Homo sapiens: one gene and its partner. The protein of the gene in region 2 interacts with the protein of the main gene of each other region in a pairwise test. Each region holds a gene or a part of one and is shown on either strand. Other genes may lie near its edges.

The links.
Region 1: the proteins of KLHL22 (region 2) and NUDCD3 interact in binary tests that used the Homo sapiens proteins (3 or more experiments, as listed by UniProt).

What each region holds. Positions count from the first base shown.
Region 1 is NC_000007.14:44,402,972-44,411,831, forward strand, and holds part of NUDCD3 (nudC domain-containing protein 3), read right to left. Parts: intron 1,613-8,860; coding exon 1,469-1,612; intron 1-1,468.
Region 2 is NC_000022.11:20,485,069-20,493,928, reverse strand, and holds part of KLHL22 (kelch-like protein 22), read left to right. Parts: intron 1-364; exon of another isoform or gene 365-670; coding exon of another isoform or gene 671-781; intron 782-787; exon of another isoform or gene 788-4,098; coding exon of another isoform or gene 4,099-4,161; intron 4,162-4,684; coding exon of another isoform or gene 4,685-4,717; coding exon 4,718-4,944; intron 4,945-8,860. UniProt on the Homo sapiens protein: Substrate-specific adapter of a BCR (BTB-CUL3-RBX1) E3 ubiquitin ligase complex required for chromosome alignment and localization of PLK1 at kinetochores.

The sequences.
Region 1 (8,860 bases), on a different chromosome or scaffold from region 2:
AAAGGAACTGGTAGTAGTCACAGGAGCCTATAGCTTGGGAAAAGGCTCCAGGCTGTGTCATAATGCACAGGCTTTATATGTCTGGGGTCAAAGGATGAGGAACTGAACTGCTGGGTGATGGGGTGATCTTCACAGTATTTGCAGGCAGGAGAAGAGCACTTCTCTGGTCTTTGGCTGCTGAATGCCATGGGCAGGGGAGCACACAGGGTGAGATTTAGAAAAAGAACCACTGCCATCTACCACTGGCCATCAGCAGAGGTAGGCCCTGGGTGGCCAGGAGAGTCAGAACTGGGATGGGCCAGTCCAAGCCCCATTGCTGGAAACTCTACACATCACACATAGGGCCTCACGTAGGGCCTAAATAGGAGGCCCTGCTTAGGATGAAACACTCACTAGGAGAGTGAGCAGTTGAGGCCACGGCAGCACCAAGGAGCATGTTGTCTGTGCCCAGGTTGGCCCCACCTCTGTGTAGCCAGAGTGAGCTCCATTGTCCAGGTTTGATATCAAGACCAGAGTCAAGGTTGGTCCAGGTTTCTGCAGCACTGACAGAATACACTCCTTTCGGTACCTGGCCTGCATGTCCCTCCGAGCATGAGGACAGCCAGGACAGAGTCACTGTGAGCCTGAGAGATAGTTTGTCCCTGCCAGTCAGCACTGGCCAGGGAAGCCCAGGCAGAAGCCTGCCAAGCATGTCTTATAGAAACCAAAACAGATACCTTTATTGCATACTTTGCACATATGAAGAATATATCTGTATAAAATTCTAAAGACTTTTGTCCAGACATTATATTTTTCTTTTCACCTTTATTCCTTTTACCATGCCCTGTAAACACCCCAGTAGGAGAAAAAAAGGAAACAAGTTAGTTCAGAACATGTTGTGCCTCAATTTATCTGTAGGTGACCTCCACTTGGGCACCAGCACAGAGCCACCACTGACAAGGTTCAAAGCTTTCACAGGGGAGAAGGAGCTGAGCCACCAACAGATCTGGCCCAGGCGTGCAGCCCAATTTGTGAGCGAGTCTGCTAACTGGTAACATGTGAGCTGTTCATTTGGAGTCACACCTTAATCTCACTGTCCTGAACTCTTAGCTATGCCTAACCAGCAGCTGGCTAAGGACAGCCAGTTGGTCAATGAGCCTGATTCTCTGAATTTATTAACTCTGTACCCTCCAGAGTAGCATCTGTAAAAATTCAACCTAGCTTTTCATTTTCAATTTACTTGTTTTTGCCTTAGATGTAAGAACAGTGGAGCTCTTGGGAATGACCAAGACCTCAAAGGGCCAAAGCTCAAGTGCCCACAGAGACGATCTCTGAGCAGTATGGAAAATGCTCAGGAAAACCCATCTGCCCCAGCAGCTGAAATTAACAACCTCACTGCTTAAGTGTAAATAGGCTTGTTGGTCAAAAGGGGCATCACTGCAGGTTTGAAGTCCACCTGGGAGCCCTACACACAGGTGCCCAAACTTACCAAAACGCACTTCCCGGGCTCGAGACTCCAGAGAGAACTCTCAGTGTTGATCTTGTGGGTGAGCTTCCCTTCCATGAGGACGCGCTCCCCATTTTCCTCCAGCATGGCCACACGAATGGAGCTGCTGCTAAGGGCCACTGAGACCTGGGGACACAGCAGAAGAAAATCATCTCTCCTATCAGGGTGACCACTGGTGTGCTGTACGGTGGGAGTGGTGATGGTTTCCAAGGTACCTGACTGCACACTACAGCGCTGTCATCAGGCTCACCAGGCATCTCAGTGAAGAAAACCATACCAGCCTAATTTATACCTAGAGCAACCTGAAGATGTCAGCTCATTTAGTAAATCCACCAGAAAATCTTTCTCAGCATAACTGGTAACGTAAAATGCTGTGGTGGAAGCTGCTGTGACCCAATCTTCTTCTCCCTTCTCCAGTTAACGGAGACCAATTGTCACAGCAAAAAGTGAGCAGAGGAGACAAGTGGTATTTCTTCCTTGCCTCCCCTTGTGGCTACCTGGGAGACGCAGGAGCCCAGCCCTGGACCACAGCAACCAAGAAAGCTGAGGGGGCTGCACACCCTGAATTGCTCACCCCAGGACTGCTGTACAAGAGACAAGCACCACCTCTTCCTTCCATGAGCCACTGCACTGCCTGGTTGACTATAGCCTGGTCTTCATCCAAGAGTATGAGACCAACTCCTTTGGTTTTGGAAGGCAGCTATGCTCACCAATATACCACCAACACTCGCACATGGTTTTGCATTTTGTCTTGGTTCTTTACAAAACCAAGCCTCTAAAAGCCTCAGCTCACCCTCCTCCCTCTGAGCCTGTCCTAGGCAGAGACTGGCCCCATGGCCTTCCCCACCGCCCTAGGAACACCTATCCCTGCCCCACCACTTGTCCGTCTCCAGAACTGGACTGGCAGCTGTGGGAGTAGGGTTCCTTTTACTTCATATCATGTATTCCAGCCAGCAGTCTCCAAAGCAGGGTATGCATACCCCAGGAGGTTCACAGGTCAGTAATTAGAAGAGGAAATAAAACAGAACTTCCATTTACATTTTGTATCTGTATAATGTATGCATTAAGAAGACACTGGGATCAAGTACTTAAAACTTTTTTCTAATAGGTATGTGGAATAAAAATAATTTGGAAGCTACTCTCCATGTCATTTGGTAGATGGCTCATTAAACGCTTATAAAATGATTGGAAAAAAAGACAACCCAAACTGATAGATTTTCCAAACTGGAGTTTAGTATTTCCAATGAAATACAATACCATAACCTAACTGTAGTTTAAATATTCGTAAATAAAAAATGGAAATGGGAGAAATGATGTGCAGGAGTCACCGCTGTCAGTTTTTCTTCTTTTTCTTTAAGAGACACGGCCTCACTGCATTGCCCAGGCTGGAGTGCAGTGGCGTGATCCCAGCTCACTGCTGCATCAAACTCCTGGGCTGAAGCAATCCCTCCACCTCAGCCTCCCGAGTAACTGGGACTACAGGTACGTGCCACCATGCCTGGCTAATTTTATTTTTATTTTTTGTAGAGACAGGGGTCTTGCTGTTGCCCAGGCTGGTCTCGAACTCTTGGCCCCAAGTGATCCTACTGCCTCAGCCTCCCAAAGTGCTGGGATGACACATGTGAGCCACCACATCCAGCCCATCAGATAGTTACTAAATGAAAGATAGTTCCTGAGCCATGCAGTGAGGGGAGAAGGTGGCAGAAGGCTGCCCACTGGGGGACACAGCGAAGATATTCTGCTAACCACAGGCGGCTCTGCCAGGTTCACATGCAGACTCCAAGGAAGCATCCTCTCATGAGATCGCAGTTCCACTTGCATGACCTTTCATAGGGGAATTTACCACGGAAAAGGGTATTTACTTGGCTAGTCCTATTGAACAATAGGCAACTGAGCTTCACTCCCTACCTTCTAACACCATGAGGAACGTGAGCAAATGGAACAACAGATCCACTCACTCCTGAAATGATCCAGACACATGTTGGGCCAAATCATGTCTAACCATGAACTTGTGTGCAATGGAAACACGACACAGAGGGCCCAAGGCTCCTCAGCCTGCCTTCACAAGAACAAGCTCACTTAACAAATATAATTCTCCCACCCAGCTCTATATAACATAATAATTTCCAAATTTGGGGAAGCTTCTCACACTGCCTACCCAGGGGAATGAACCAAATCATCAAGGGAGAAAACCAGACAAGAAATGCTTCCAGAGGTCCCAGGTGAAGATGTCACACTGGGAACAGACAGCCATCTCTCTGACCTCTTGTGAACTGCAGGCATAATAGGCATGAAGAGAAAAACCCCAGACAGTGAAAATGGGGGAAGAGGGAGGCCAGGAACAGATGAGATGTCAACAAATCTGCAGAAGACAAAAGGAGGAGGGGCACAGGAGACAAATCCTATAGGGTAGGAGACATCCAGAAGCCACAGCTACATAGGCTCCAGTTGGGAGTCGGCAGGTATGCAGAGCAGGAGCAAGGCCAGGGGCACATGTGGGAACTGCTGTGGCCCTGGACGCCCCACTGAAAGGGACAGGAATCCCTCTGTTTGCTACAGAAGAATGGAGGACCTTGCTCCAAAGACACTGACCAGCAGTCTGAGGACCTAGTGTGGATGCCTGTGTGTCAAGTGAAGTCCTACTCACTCAAGCATTAGGATGCCAAGACCCTATGTCCTATAAAGCAAAGCTGACTGGTCAATCCACTCAGCTGTCGGTGGTGGTGGGACGAGCAGGTTTCAGACACACAGTAGACAAACCCATCAATACGGTCCCACACTCAAGAGAATGGGAGAAAAATATTTTTGTATTAAAAAAAAAAAAAAGACCGGGCATGGTGGCTCACACCTGTAATCTCAGCACTTTAGGAGGCCGAGGCAGGCAGATCACCTAAGGTTGACAGTTCGAGACCAGCCTGACCAACATGGAGAAACCCCGTCTCTACCAAAAATACAAAATTAGCCAGGCGTGGTGTTGTATGCCTGTAACCCCAGCTACTCCGGAGGCTGAGGCAGGAGAATCGCTTGAACCTGGGAGGCAGAGGTTGCGGTGAGCCGAGACTGCACCATTGCAACAGGAGCCTGAGCAACAGGAGTGAAATTCTGTCTCAAAAAAAAAAAAAAAAAAAACTAGAGAACTGAAGACTGCATCTTGTGAGAAAAAACAGGCAGATGAAAACAAGTTAAAAAAAAATACAGAGCTAATTTGGAAAAAAGATATCCAAAAATATTTCTATTTTATGTCTTCACAGAGATCTGAGAAGACACTATATCCATATAACCAGAATAAAATATGAAAATAGAACAATTAGGCCAAAAAGAAAGAACACAAGAATTTAAAATACAGTAGCTAAAATTAAACTTCAATAAAGAGGCTGGAAGATAAAGTCAAAGAAATCAAGGTAGAAACACAGATCAATTCAGGCAATCAATTTGGCATTCCAGAAATTATGACAGTAATAAGATAATTTTCCAGAGCCAAAGGAAAATATGCCTCCAGATTGAAAAGTCCCACCAAGAGCTAAGCAGAATGAATGAAAGACTCATGAAATTTTATGACACTGGGTGTTTTTAAAAAGGTCCTGAAAGTTCCAAGGAGGAGAAAAAGCTTACTCACAAAGAGATGGAATAGACTTCCAGAATCAATTACACAGAGTGTAAGAAGATATCCCTTTCAATCCTAACAAGGGAAAATTATTTTTAAGCTAGAATTCTACATACACCCAAACTGAGAAATAAGTGAAAAGTTAAAATAAATGCATTTTAAGATATACAACAATTCTACATTATATATCACTTTGAGAAAAACAAAATGAGGATGAAAACTGAAAAAGAGGAATATCCAACTCAAGTCCAAAAACTGCATTTAATCTATAAACGCAGGAAGAAAATACCAGGAGTGTAGCTATACAGCAGAACAGGAAATAACCAGTCTAGAGTGGAGTTCAGGCAGAAAGAGATTTCTAGACAATACTCAGTATTAATGAATCTGGGTAATTCTGAGGTTATGATGAAGTATACTATTTTTGATAACAAGATAAAAAAGAAGGGCAGCAAGAACCCTCAGGAAAACAAAAAAGATTTAAGAGATTCCTGATCCAAAGGATGTCAGTGAAAATGGTGGTTACTACAGGCCTCCAAAAAGCTCTCCTCCATAAAAGCAACCAAAAAGTTGGCAAAAATTGTCAGTATCAACTTCTTATGGATTTTGGAAACTAACCAAAGGTTTGCAGGAACCCAGGGAGCATTAATTCAAGGAAAACAACCACATCTCAGTAAGAACAGTGAGCTCTGTGATATTTTAATTTGGCCTAGACCCATCCCCACTCTCCAGGCTCTCAGCAGGCCGCATTCCTGGTACAGCGTAGCAGCCATCGCTGGAGAAAACAGTGCTCTTAGAGCTCTTTCAAAGCTTCATTCTCAAAGAACTGTCATCATTTGACCTGTCTGATGGTTCCCTGTAAGACCTCATTTGCAAGACTGACTGACTGTTTCTGGCTAAACTCAGAAAAGCCTTCCTCCCAACCCAGGAGTGTCTGTTGAAAATACGGCAAGTGTTTTAACTTTGCAGCCTCCTGAGGTGGCAGATAACAACTGAGGCAAACCAAAGGCAAAGGTGGGAAATAAAATGTCCGTGGGGGCTTTGAAAAGCTTTGACATTTTCCCAGGAATCTAGAAAGACACATGAATGTACAGAGCTTCACTGCACACTCAGGAAAAACCTAAGAAGGCCTTAAGCTCTCACCTCTGGCTGACTTTGACTCAACATCAGCAGGAAATAAAGGCTAAGGCAGTTTTTAACTGTTAGGCCAAGCAATGAAGGTATGCTCCAACAGGTAGATGAAGCCCCTCGACAAAAACAGGTGTTTACTGATCCCAGGAGTTTAAGGAAATCGCCATCTAATAATTACTTGGCCACTAAGTTCACCAAGTACAGATTTCACTGGTCAGACACAATAAAGAATACAAACTTTACAGAATTAGTTCAGAAAAGTCATTAAACAAGAACAACTATATCACGTACCAATAGCAACCATGGGAAGAAAGGAGCATCTGATTTCCTGAGTCACCCCATTGTGTTATTTAAAAATCCATTTCTCAATAACAGCAAAAAAAAAAAAATTAGACAAAGAAACAACAAAGTATGGCCCATACATAGGAAAAAGAAAGCAATCAATAAAATCTGTCCCTGAGGAAGCCCACATATGAAGAACTTAGCAGAAAACAGTCTCTAAATCACCTATTTTAAATATGCTCAAAGAGCTAAGAAAACTATGCAAAAATTACTAAAGGAAAGTATGGGAATAACGTCTTTTAAGTAGAGAATATCAATAAATATCAGTATCACTATTGATACTGATAACGAGATAGAAATTATTATTACCATTTTTTTAAGAATCAAATACAAATTCTGGAGTTCAAAAGTAAAAGGGGGAAAAGATAAGCGTTCATGAAAGGGGCTCAAAACCACTTTTTAGCATTTAGAAGAAAGAACAAGCAAACTTGAAGACAGGTCAATTGAGATTACCCAAACTGCGAAACAGGAGGAAAAAACAGTGAAGAAAAATAAACAGAGTCACAGAACCTGAGGGACACTATTAAGCATACCAACATACAGAAGAGAAAAGAAGAAAGAATATTTGAAAGAATAATGGCTAAAAACTTTCCAAATTTGACATGAAAAAAATTACACCCAAGAAGCTCAATGAATTCCAAGTAAAATAAACTAAAAGGGAGCCAGCCTCACCTAGATGTCATAATCAAACTGTCAAAAAAGCCAAGTCAATAATGAAGGAACAGAACAAAAACAAGGAATAAAATCTTCAGAACTTACTATAAAGCTACAGTAATCAAAACAGTGTGGTACTGGCATAAGGACAGGCATCTATACAGATCAATGGAACAGAATTAAAAGTCTAAAAACAGCCAGGCACAGTGGCTCACGCCTGTAATCCCAGCACTTTGGGAGGCCGAGGTGGGTGGATCACGAGGTCAGAAGATCAAGACCATCCTGGCTAACATGGTGAAACCCCGTCTCTACTAAAAATACAAAAAAAATTATCCGGGTGTGGTGGCGGGTGCCTGTAGTCCCAGCTACTTGGGAGGCTGAGGCAGGAGAATGGTGTGAACCCAGGAGGTGGAGCTTGCAGTGAGTGGAGATCCTGCCACTGCACTCCAGCCTGGGGGACAGAGCAAGACTCTGTCTCAAAAAAAAAAAAGTCTAGTAACAGGCCAGGCATGGTGGCTCACACCTGTAATCCCAGCACTCTGGGAGGCCGAGGCAGGCAGATCATGAGGTCAAGAGATCGACATTATCCTGGCCAACAGGGGGTAACCATATTTCTACTAAAAATACACAAGTTAGCTAGGTATGGTGGTGCGTGCCTGTAGTTCCAGCTACTCGGGAGGCTGAGGCAGGAAATCGCTTGAACCCAGGAGGCAGAAGTTGCAGTGAGCCAAGATCGCGTCACTGCACTCCAGCCTGGCAACAGAGCGAGACTCTATCTCAAAATAAAGTCTAGTAACAAACTCATATATTTATGATCAATTGATTTTAGACAAGAGTACCAAGACAATTCAATGGGAAAAGAATAGTATTTTCAAGTAATTGTACCATGAGAACTGAGTATTCACATGCAAAAGAATGAAACTGGTCTAATAATTCAAAATGAAGTTGGACAACTATTTCATAGCATATAATAAATTTTTTAAACTCAAAATGGATCAAAAACCTAAATGCAAGAGTTAAAATCTGTGATCTTGGGTTAGGCAACGGGTTTTAGATATAACACCACAAGCAGCCAAAGCAAAAAAAAAAAATATTGACTTCATCAAAATTTAAAACTTTTATGCTTCAAAGAGTAGTATCAAGAAAGTGAAGACAACCCATAAAATGGGAGAAAATATCTGCAAATAATGTATCTGACAAGGGTGTAGTATCCAGAATACGTAAAGAAGTCTTACAACTCCACAATAAAAAGGCAAACAACCCAATTAAAACATGCATATGGACTTGAATAGGCATTTCGCCAAAGAAGATACACAAGTGGAAAATAAGGACATAAAAAGATGCTCAATGTTATTAGTCATGAGGGAAATGCAAATCAAAACAATGAAATCCTACTTCATACCCAGTAGGATAGCTACAATTAAAAAACAAAACCAAAACAGACAATAACAAGGGTTGATGAGGATACAGAGAAATAAGCACCCTCATACATTTCTGGTGGATCTGTAAAATATAAAATGGTACAACCACTTTGGAAAACTGTTTGACAGTTCCTCAAAAAGTTAATTATAGAGGTACCACATGACCCAGCAATTCCACCCATAGGTATATACCCTAGTGGTGAAGACAGAAAACATATGTCCAGA
Region 2 (8,860 bases):
ACCACGCCCCACTAATTTTTGTATTTTTAGTAGAGATGGGGCTTCCTCATGTTGGCCAGGCTGGTCTTGAACTCCTGACCTCAGGTGATCCTCCCACGTTGGCCTCCCAAAGTGCTGGGATTACAGGCATGAGCCACTGTGCCCAGCCTACTTTGCACATTGTTTTTTTGTTTGTTTTTTTGTTTTTGAGACGGAGTCTCGCACTGTCATGCAGGCTGGAATGCAGTGGCGTGATTCTCCTGCCTCAGCCTCCCAAGTAGCTGGGATTATAGGCACCTACCACCATGCCCGGCTAATTTTTTTGTATTTTTAGTAGAGATGGGGTTTCACTATGTTGGCCAGGCTGGTCTTGAACTCCTGACCTCGTGATTCATCCGCCTCAGCCTCCCGAAGTGTTGGGATTACAGGCGTGAGCCACTGCGCCCGGCCACTTTGCGCATTTTGACTGTTGCCTAATGTTCTGTCAGATCACTGTGCCATGACATCTGTTCTCCTGAGGGTGGACGTTTTGGTGATTTAAAACCGTATAGATGTGGTTTTAAATGTTTTAAATGTTGCACCCTGTGCTGTGCTCCTTCCCAGCAGAGAATTGATTCATTTTTCAGCATATCCCCCTTAGCCCCTAGCTAAGTTTCTTAAATTGGACTTGGTAAATGTGCTTTGCCTGCCCATGGAAGATGTCTTTCTGTTTTACCGTACTTGTTTTTGCAGTATGGGTTTAGGGAGTAGCTGCCATTTATCCCTTCCCAAGAGAGCAGAGGCACTACTATGCTCACGGAAGGTGAGGATCCACCTGGGGGCTTGATGTCTATTGGGGTAGTTGTGGAGGTCACCCTCAGAGAAGGAGGCCCTCTTGACTCTGCGGTGGTCATGGTGGTGATGAGAAAGCTGAGGCGTGGGTATATGAGACAAGTGCCCAGAGTCTGTCATTAGCAAGTGGTACAGCCAGCCATGGGGGCTTTTGAGATGTTTGTGAGATAAAACCTCACCCCTCAAGAAGCCGGAATCTCCTTGTCGTGGGTAAATAGGCAGGTTTGGGCCGGGCGCGGTGGCTCATGCCTGTAATCCCAGCACTTTGGGAGGTCAAGGCAGATGGATCACCTGAGGTCAGGAATGCGAGACCAGCCTGACCAACATGGTGAAACCCCATTTCTGCTAAAAATGCAAGAAAATTAGCTGGGTGTGGTGGTGCACGCCTGTAATCCCAGCTACTGGGGAGGCTGAGGCAGGAGAATCACTTGAACCTGAGAGGCAGAGGTTGCAGTGAGCCAAGATCACACCACTGCACTCTAGCCTGGGTGACAGAGCGAGACTCCGTCTAAAAAAAAAAAAAAGGGCAGGTTTGAATGGTGGGGCATATTTGTCATGTTCTCTGTACAATGATAGAGGGAGAAGTAATCGAGCTAGACCTTGACCAATATGGGACTATGAGAGACAGAATGGCCTAGATGGGTGACTAAAGGTGTTCAGGGGATGACAGGTATCCCTTTTGGACTAAGGACTGCTGATGGGGCTGAGTAGGTAAGGCTTGAAGGAGAGCAGCCTGGGGAGGATGAGACAAGAGGTAGGGAAACTGGTAGGGGCATCACTGCTGTGGTCTGACCCAGAGTGGTGGCCCTGGAGGAGTGGAGGGTGGCTGTCTGAGATGGAGGAGAGGTGAAGGAATCAGAACTAGTAGGTTCATAGGGCACATGGGTTAGAAAGGAAAAATATTAAAACAGTGAGGTTTCCAAGATGGAAATGGTAGCTTTGATAGTAAAATTAGACAAGTTGGAGGGCTACTAGCTAGATTAGGCACTGAGCTGTAGGTGAAACTGGGAATGTGAACCACTGGGAAAGAAGGATGGGCTCGAGCAGGGTGTGTGGGATGAAAGAGAGAGGTCAGAAAAGGGAGAATTATCATAGAGCAGAGTTTCCAGGCAAGAGAATCCTAAGTGAGAGGTGGTCATGGGGTATACACCTTGGCTGTGGCCATCTCTGGGGCCTTGGTGAGAAAGATGAGCCAGCCCAGGAGGGGGAAAGGAATGGGTGGGTGGCTGGATAGAGGTCCCAGGTCCTGGAGGCAGACTCAGGGGCAGGCACAGATAACTGAGTGTGTTTGATGGGAAGCAGTAGAGCATCCAGGGGATGGGGTTGGGGGTGGCCCTGAGCCTCAGTAGTGAAGAGAGAGACCTCTTCTTTTTGGCAAGTTTTATATCAGCATATATTTTTCATTTTTTCTTTTAAAGATATATAATCATGTGCCACACAGTGATGTTTCCGTCAATGACAGACCAGACCACATGAAGGATGGTGGTCCCATATTTTTACTGTACCTTGTCTGTGTTTAGATACACAAATTCCATTGTGTTACAGTTGCCTATAGTATTCAGTACTGTGATATTGTGAAATATATATTTGGTCTTGTCTCATTTCTTGGCATACAACTTCTAAAATCTTTGGACTTTCCAGAGTGATGCCTTTTTGTATGCTGGCCAGCAGCCCCTAGGTAGCTTCAGGATGGGGGCTGGTGACAGGAAAGGCCAAGGCAGGCATAAGAGGGTTGGGACTTTCAGCCTCACCTCTCAACCTCCGGAGAGGGGAGACAGGCTGAAGATTAAGTTCATCACCAATGGCCAGTGATTTAATCAGTCATGCCTACATAATGAAGCTTCCATAAAAATTCTGAATGACTGGGTTTGGAAAACTTCTGGATAGTTGAACACATGGAGGCTCCTAAAGAGTGATGTTCCTGGAGAGGGCCTGGAAGCTCTGCACCACTTCCCACATGTCTGGCCCCATGCATCTCTTCATCTGTATCCTTTGCAATACCCTTTATAACAAACCAGTAGACATGAGTATTTTCCTGAGTTCTGTGAGTCGCTCTAACAAATTAGTTGAACCCAAGAAGGGGATCTTGGGAACCCAATTTATAGCCTATTGGTCAGAAGCACAGGTGAAACAACCTGGGAGACTCAGCCCTCAACCTGTGGGATCAGACACTGTCTCCAGGTAGTGTTAGAGTTGAATTAGAGCAGGGGTCCGCAACCCCCAGGCCTCAGACCTGTATCAGTCTGTGGCTGGTTAGGAACCAGGTGGCACAACAGGAGGTGAGTGGAGGGTGATCCAGCATTACCACCTGAGCTCCACCTCCTGTCAGATCAGAGGTGGCATCAGATTCTCATAGGAGCACAAACCCTGTTGTGAACCATGCATGTGAGGGGTCCAGATTGTGTGCTCCGAAAGAGAATCTAGCTAATGCCTGATAATCTGAGGTGGAACAGTTTGATCCCGAAACCATTCCCCGACCCCGTGGAAAAATTGTCTTCCAAGAAAGTGGTCCCTAGTGCCAAAAAGATTGGGGACTGCTGAATTAGAAGACACCCAGCTGGTATCTGTGGCAGAATTGATTGCTTGCTTGTTAATGGGGAAAAACCCTCACACATTTGGTCACAGAAGTCTCCTGTGTTTGTTGTTGTGGTATAAGAGGAGAGGAAAAACAGTGTGTTTTTTTCATTCAGAACTACAGTAACATGCTGTACAAGTATGTAGCTTAGGAGCAATTGGCTGTACCTTATGGCCTAGATGTGTAGTAGTCTCTACCACCTAGGTTTGTGTAGGTGTACCCTTTGATGTTCACACACTGAGGAAATTGCCTCCAGCGATATAAGTCTCAGAATGTATCCCCAACATTAAGTGATGCATGACTGGAGGTAATTGGAGAATAAACATATTTTGGGGAGAGGAAAGTAGGATGAAGTGAGGTGGAGAAGACAGATGTTCACATCTTGTAGCTGACTGTGCTGTGCCTACAGAGCCTGCAGCTTGGCCATGCCTCACAGTGTGGGACTGGCCACTCCCTGACCTGAACAGCTGGCTATCCACAGTCACTTTTGGTTGCTCCATGGCAAAAGTGCATTTGCAGTAGGTTCATTTTACTGATTAGGTTTTAGAGGCTCCAATTCAAATCAGTTTGCGGTTTTTGAACGTACTGACTCAATTATTAGAAGATAATCTTTAATTTAAAAGGCAATGCAGATGAATTTAAATGCATCAGGTTCAATCACAGTTACTGTGCTTGACTCTCAGAATTTCAGTAAAGGAAAGTAGGCCCTGGAAATGCCACCCCCTTGGCACCCACCTCCCAGACTCCTGGCTGTGTGTCTCCTGACCACTACTCAGGTCTTGCCATTTTTATGCATCCATTACTATGAGGAAGAACCCAATTTTGTTCATTCAATGGGAGGGAGGAAGAGCTCTTGAGAACCTGGTGTGTGCTTATGCTTCATGTTCATTGTTTTACCAATTTTAGAATACCCCAATGGGGTAGGTACTTTTATCTCTCTTTTTAAAATTGGGGAGCTCGAGGCTCAGTTTGGTCATGTTGTAAGTCCCTGTGGAGTTGGGCTCCAACCCAGGTCAGTCTGTTTCCCAAAACCCTTCTGTTTGACTTTGCCGCTGAAGAAGATACAATGAGATGAAGAGTCTTGGGCATGATGGCACACAGGTCATCAGGAAGAAGGCCATCAGGAAGTTGGACTAGAGGTGGGAGGGGAGAAGGAATTAGGGGATTTGGAAATAGAGGGAAAACAGGTGAGCCTGAGGGAGGCACAGGAGCAAGGGGAGCAACAGAGCTGGCCAGTCTGTGTGTGGTGGGGCTGATGCCTGCCTGCTCACCCCTGTCCCCTGTTTTGCCAACTGTCAGGCCACAGTTGTAAGGGATCTTGTGGCTGTCAGGATGGCAGAGGAGCAGGAGTTCACCCAGCTCTGCAAGTTGCCTGCACAGCCCTCACACCCACACTGCGTGAACAACACCTACCGCAGCGCACAGCACTCCCAGGCTCTGCTCCGAGGGCTGCTGGCTCTCCGGGACAGCGGAATCCTCTTCGATGTTGTGCTGGTGGTGGAGGGCAGACACATCGAGGCCCATCGCATCCTGCTGGCTGCGTCCTGCGATTACTTCAGGTGAGTTCACTAGAGCTGTTTGTAAGAAGAATAACAAAGGTAATCCTGGCTCTGCTAGTAAAGGTACTGGCGGTGACAGTGGCTGGTCTCCTGCTCACCTCAGAGCCTCCCCTACTCCTTGTGGCTATGACTTAGTCAACAAGTGTGAGAGACAGAAGGGGGTCTTAGAGTTCATTTTTCATTCAGTGATCCTGTTTCTTGGGCTTTGCCTCCTCTTCTCTTCCCTCTCTTCTCTTCCTTTTCTTTTCCTTTTCTCTCTCTTTTCTTTTCTCTTTTCTTTCCTCCTTTCTCTCCTCCCCTCCCTTACCATTCCTCCCCTCCGTCAGTAATTATTGCTGTGTATGCATCACCTTCTGGCTCACACCTCTCATCCCTCAGGTGTTAGCCTCTGGCCCTCCCAGTGAGCTCTGTGGCCCCTCTGGGGTTTCTTATGGCCTCCTTCGTGACCCCATCCCAGCACTTGGCACAGTGTGAGGAACCACTGGCTTATCTGTCTTTTCCACTGGGTTGGAATCTGTCTCTTATCCCTAGCACCTGACATGGTTTTCACATATTCAAACAATACCCATGGCTTAAATGAATAAATTTATGTACACAGATAGCAGATCAATACACCATTTGCCCTGTTGTCTGCACTGCTCTGCACTCAAGGAGGTGGGTGTCACCACCCTTATTTCACATAGGTGGCATGAGCCTGAGAAGGACTGAGGGCCACTCGTGGTCCCCAGCAAGGTTGTCATGGGACTCCAAGCCTGAGGTGTTCCATTCTAGCTCTGATTCTGTTCAATCATTTTGTCTTCAAGGCTTAGTTGTAGTTCTCTCTCTCTCTCTTTCTCTTTATCTCTCTCTATTTTTTTAATTAGGAACTATCAAGCAAAATATGTATGGTTTAAGTGCCTTCTGTCTCCAAAAGGAGTTTTGGAGAATGTGACCCAGTGGTGGCTTGGTGCAGATGTGTCCAGGAGCAGCAGAATTCTTTCAGTTCACCAGGGAAATTCAGCTGAGGCCTTTAATAAGCATTAAGATAACATACAGGACAGTGGGTAGGGTAGAGGAGCTGAGGGCCCCCTGCAGGGGACTTAGGACCTGTATAGGAGAGGATGGCCAGAGGCTGTGGAGCCTATGGGATCCCCTGGGCTCACCCTCTCAGCCCTTCTTGATTTAGTGTCATACCACTCTTTCTGAAGATGACAGTGTAGGCAGCCTTTCGCTAATCTGTCAAAAACCTTATGTGGCTTTCCACGTCCTCCAGGAGCAATTTCTAGCCCTTTCCACAGCCCCCCTTGGGTAAACCTCTTATGAGAGGTGTCCTGCTCTCCGGGATGATTACAATGCATCACTAACACCCCCTGCATCCCTCCACTTCCATTGGGAAGGGGAGCGGGAGAGTGGCAACATTATTGGAAGAGCCCAGAGTCATTTCACAGGGGGGTGTGTGTGTGTATGTATAAATAAGAAATAGAGGCCAGTCACGGTGGCTCACACCTGTAATCCCAGCACTTTGGGAGGCCAAGGCAGGTGGATCACTTGAGGCCAGGAGTTTGAGACTAGCCTGGCCAACATGGTGAAACCCTGTCTCTACTAAAAAAAAAAAAAAAAATTAGCTGGGTGTAGTGGTGGGCGCCTGTAATCCCAGCTACTTGGGAGGCTGAGGCAGGAGAGTTGCTTGAACACAGGATGCGGAGGTTGCAGTGAGCCGAGATTGTGCCACTGCATTCCAGCCTGGGTGACAGAGCAAGACCCTGTTTCAAAAAAACAAAAAAGAGGCTGGATGTAGTGGCTCACGCCTGTAATCCTAGAACTTTGGGAGGCCGAGGCGGGTGGATCACCTGAGATTAGTAGTTCGAGACCAGCCTGGCCAACATAGTGAAACTCCGTCTCTGCTAAAAATACAAAAACTAGCGGGGCGTGGTGGCACATGCCTGTAATCCCAGTTACTTGGGAGGCTGAGGCAGGAGAATCACTTGAACCCAGGAGGCGGAGGTTGCAGTGAGCCTAGAAAGAGGCCAGGCTTGGTGGCTCACTCCTATAATTCCAGCACTTCGGGAGGCCAAGGAGGGCGGATAACTTGAGGTCAGGAGTTGGAGACCAGCCTGACCCACATGGCAATACCCTGTCTCTACTAAAAATACAAAATTAGCTGGGCGTGGTAGCACATGCCTGTAATCCCAGCTACTCAGGAGGCTGAAGCAGGAGAATTGCTTGAACCCGGGAGGCGGAGGTTGCAGTGAGCCGAGATTGCGCCACTGCATTCCAGCCTGGGCAACAAGAATGAAACTCCGTCTCAAAAAAAAAAAAAAAGAAAAGAAATAGACCATTCCCAAGTGTTAGCATGTTTATTATTTGTTTTAGTTACTTGTGAAATGTTAAAATGATAAAGGACTATTTTTTTCCCAGTATGACTGGTAAATATGTGTGAGAGGCTTGTAATATTTGATATGGGCAAGGGTAGAGAGAAGGGCATTTAGGGGTGGGCTGGCCCATAGTTTAGGGCCCTGCAGTTGTATGTTGGGTGTCTAGGTGTCATTCCTGTGGGACGATGCACCCAGTGCTGAGACATGGTGCAGGACAGAGCCTTTCTGTGTTATCCAATGGAGCTACTTGCAAACTGGGCAGTGTGGTGTGTCTACTGATAGGGAGTGAAAAACCTCAGGACCTGGTGGAAGATGATCCCAACCATGAAGATCTGGAAGGATCTTGCTGCACCGTGGGGACTCAGCAAAGGGCAAAGGGAGAGGGAGGCTGAATTTCTTCTGTTTACTGCATTGTCTGAATTATTTTACAAAGAACATAAATTTCTTTTTTTTTTTTTTTTTTTGAGACGGAATCTCACTCTGTCACCCAGGCTGGAGTGCAGTGGTGTGATCTCGGCTCACTGCAACCTCTGCCTCCGGGTTCAAGCAATTCTCCTGCCTCAGCCTCTCGAGTAGCTGGGACTACAGGTGTGCGCCACCACGCCCGGCTAATTTTTTGTATTTTTAGTAGAGACAGGGTTTCACCATGTTGGCCAGGCTGATCTCGAACTCCTGACCTTGTGATTTGCCCTCCTTGGCCTCCCAAAGTGCTGGGATGACAGGTGTGAGCCACACCACGCCCAGCCTTTTGTTTGTTTGTTTTGAGATGGAGTCTCGCCCTGTCCCCCAGGCTGAAGTGCAGTGGGGCAATCTCGGCTCACTGCAACCTCTGCCTCCCGGGTTCAAGTGATTCTCCTGCCTCAGCCTCCTGAGTAGCTGGGATTACAGACGTGTGCCACCAAACCCGGCTAATTTTTGTATTTTTAGTAGAGGCGGGGTTTTGCCATGTTGGCCAGGCTGGTCTCCAACTCCTGACCTCAGGTGATCCGCCTGCCTTGGCCTCCCAAAGTGTTCGGATTACAGACGTGAGCCACCATGCCTGGCCTCTTCTCTGCCTTTTCTGTCCTGTGGAAATTTTTCTTCTTTGGCCCACCTGAGATGCCTCCTCCTCTGGAGAGCTTTCCCTAATTGTCCCTTGCTGTTTCCCAGGTGGAGGAATCTCAGTTTTCCTGAAGGGCAGAGAGCTGTACTGCCCTGCTGCAGGAAGCCTCCTGTGCTCTTTCTGTGTACTCTGTACATGGTTTAGGAATTGGATGGCCAGACTGCATTTTCTTTTTTTGACTTTTGTTAATAACTTTTCATTGCACACTTACTTTGGCTCCCCTGACCCTACACCCACCTTGTATGCTTTAACCTTGTATGCTTCTGAGGTGGTTTCTCCTCTCCTCCTGGACCCTTATAGTCTGAAGAGCCCAAAGGCTCTGTCCTTTTTATACAACCTCCATGGGTCACCTCGTCCCTCCCTTAGTTTTCATTCCATCTGTGAATTATAAAAGACTGCTTAGCTGAACTCAATGTCTGTTACTTTAAAAGTTTGGATACAATTGATGATTTTATTTTTA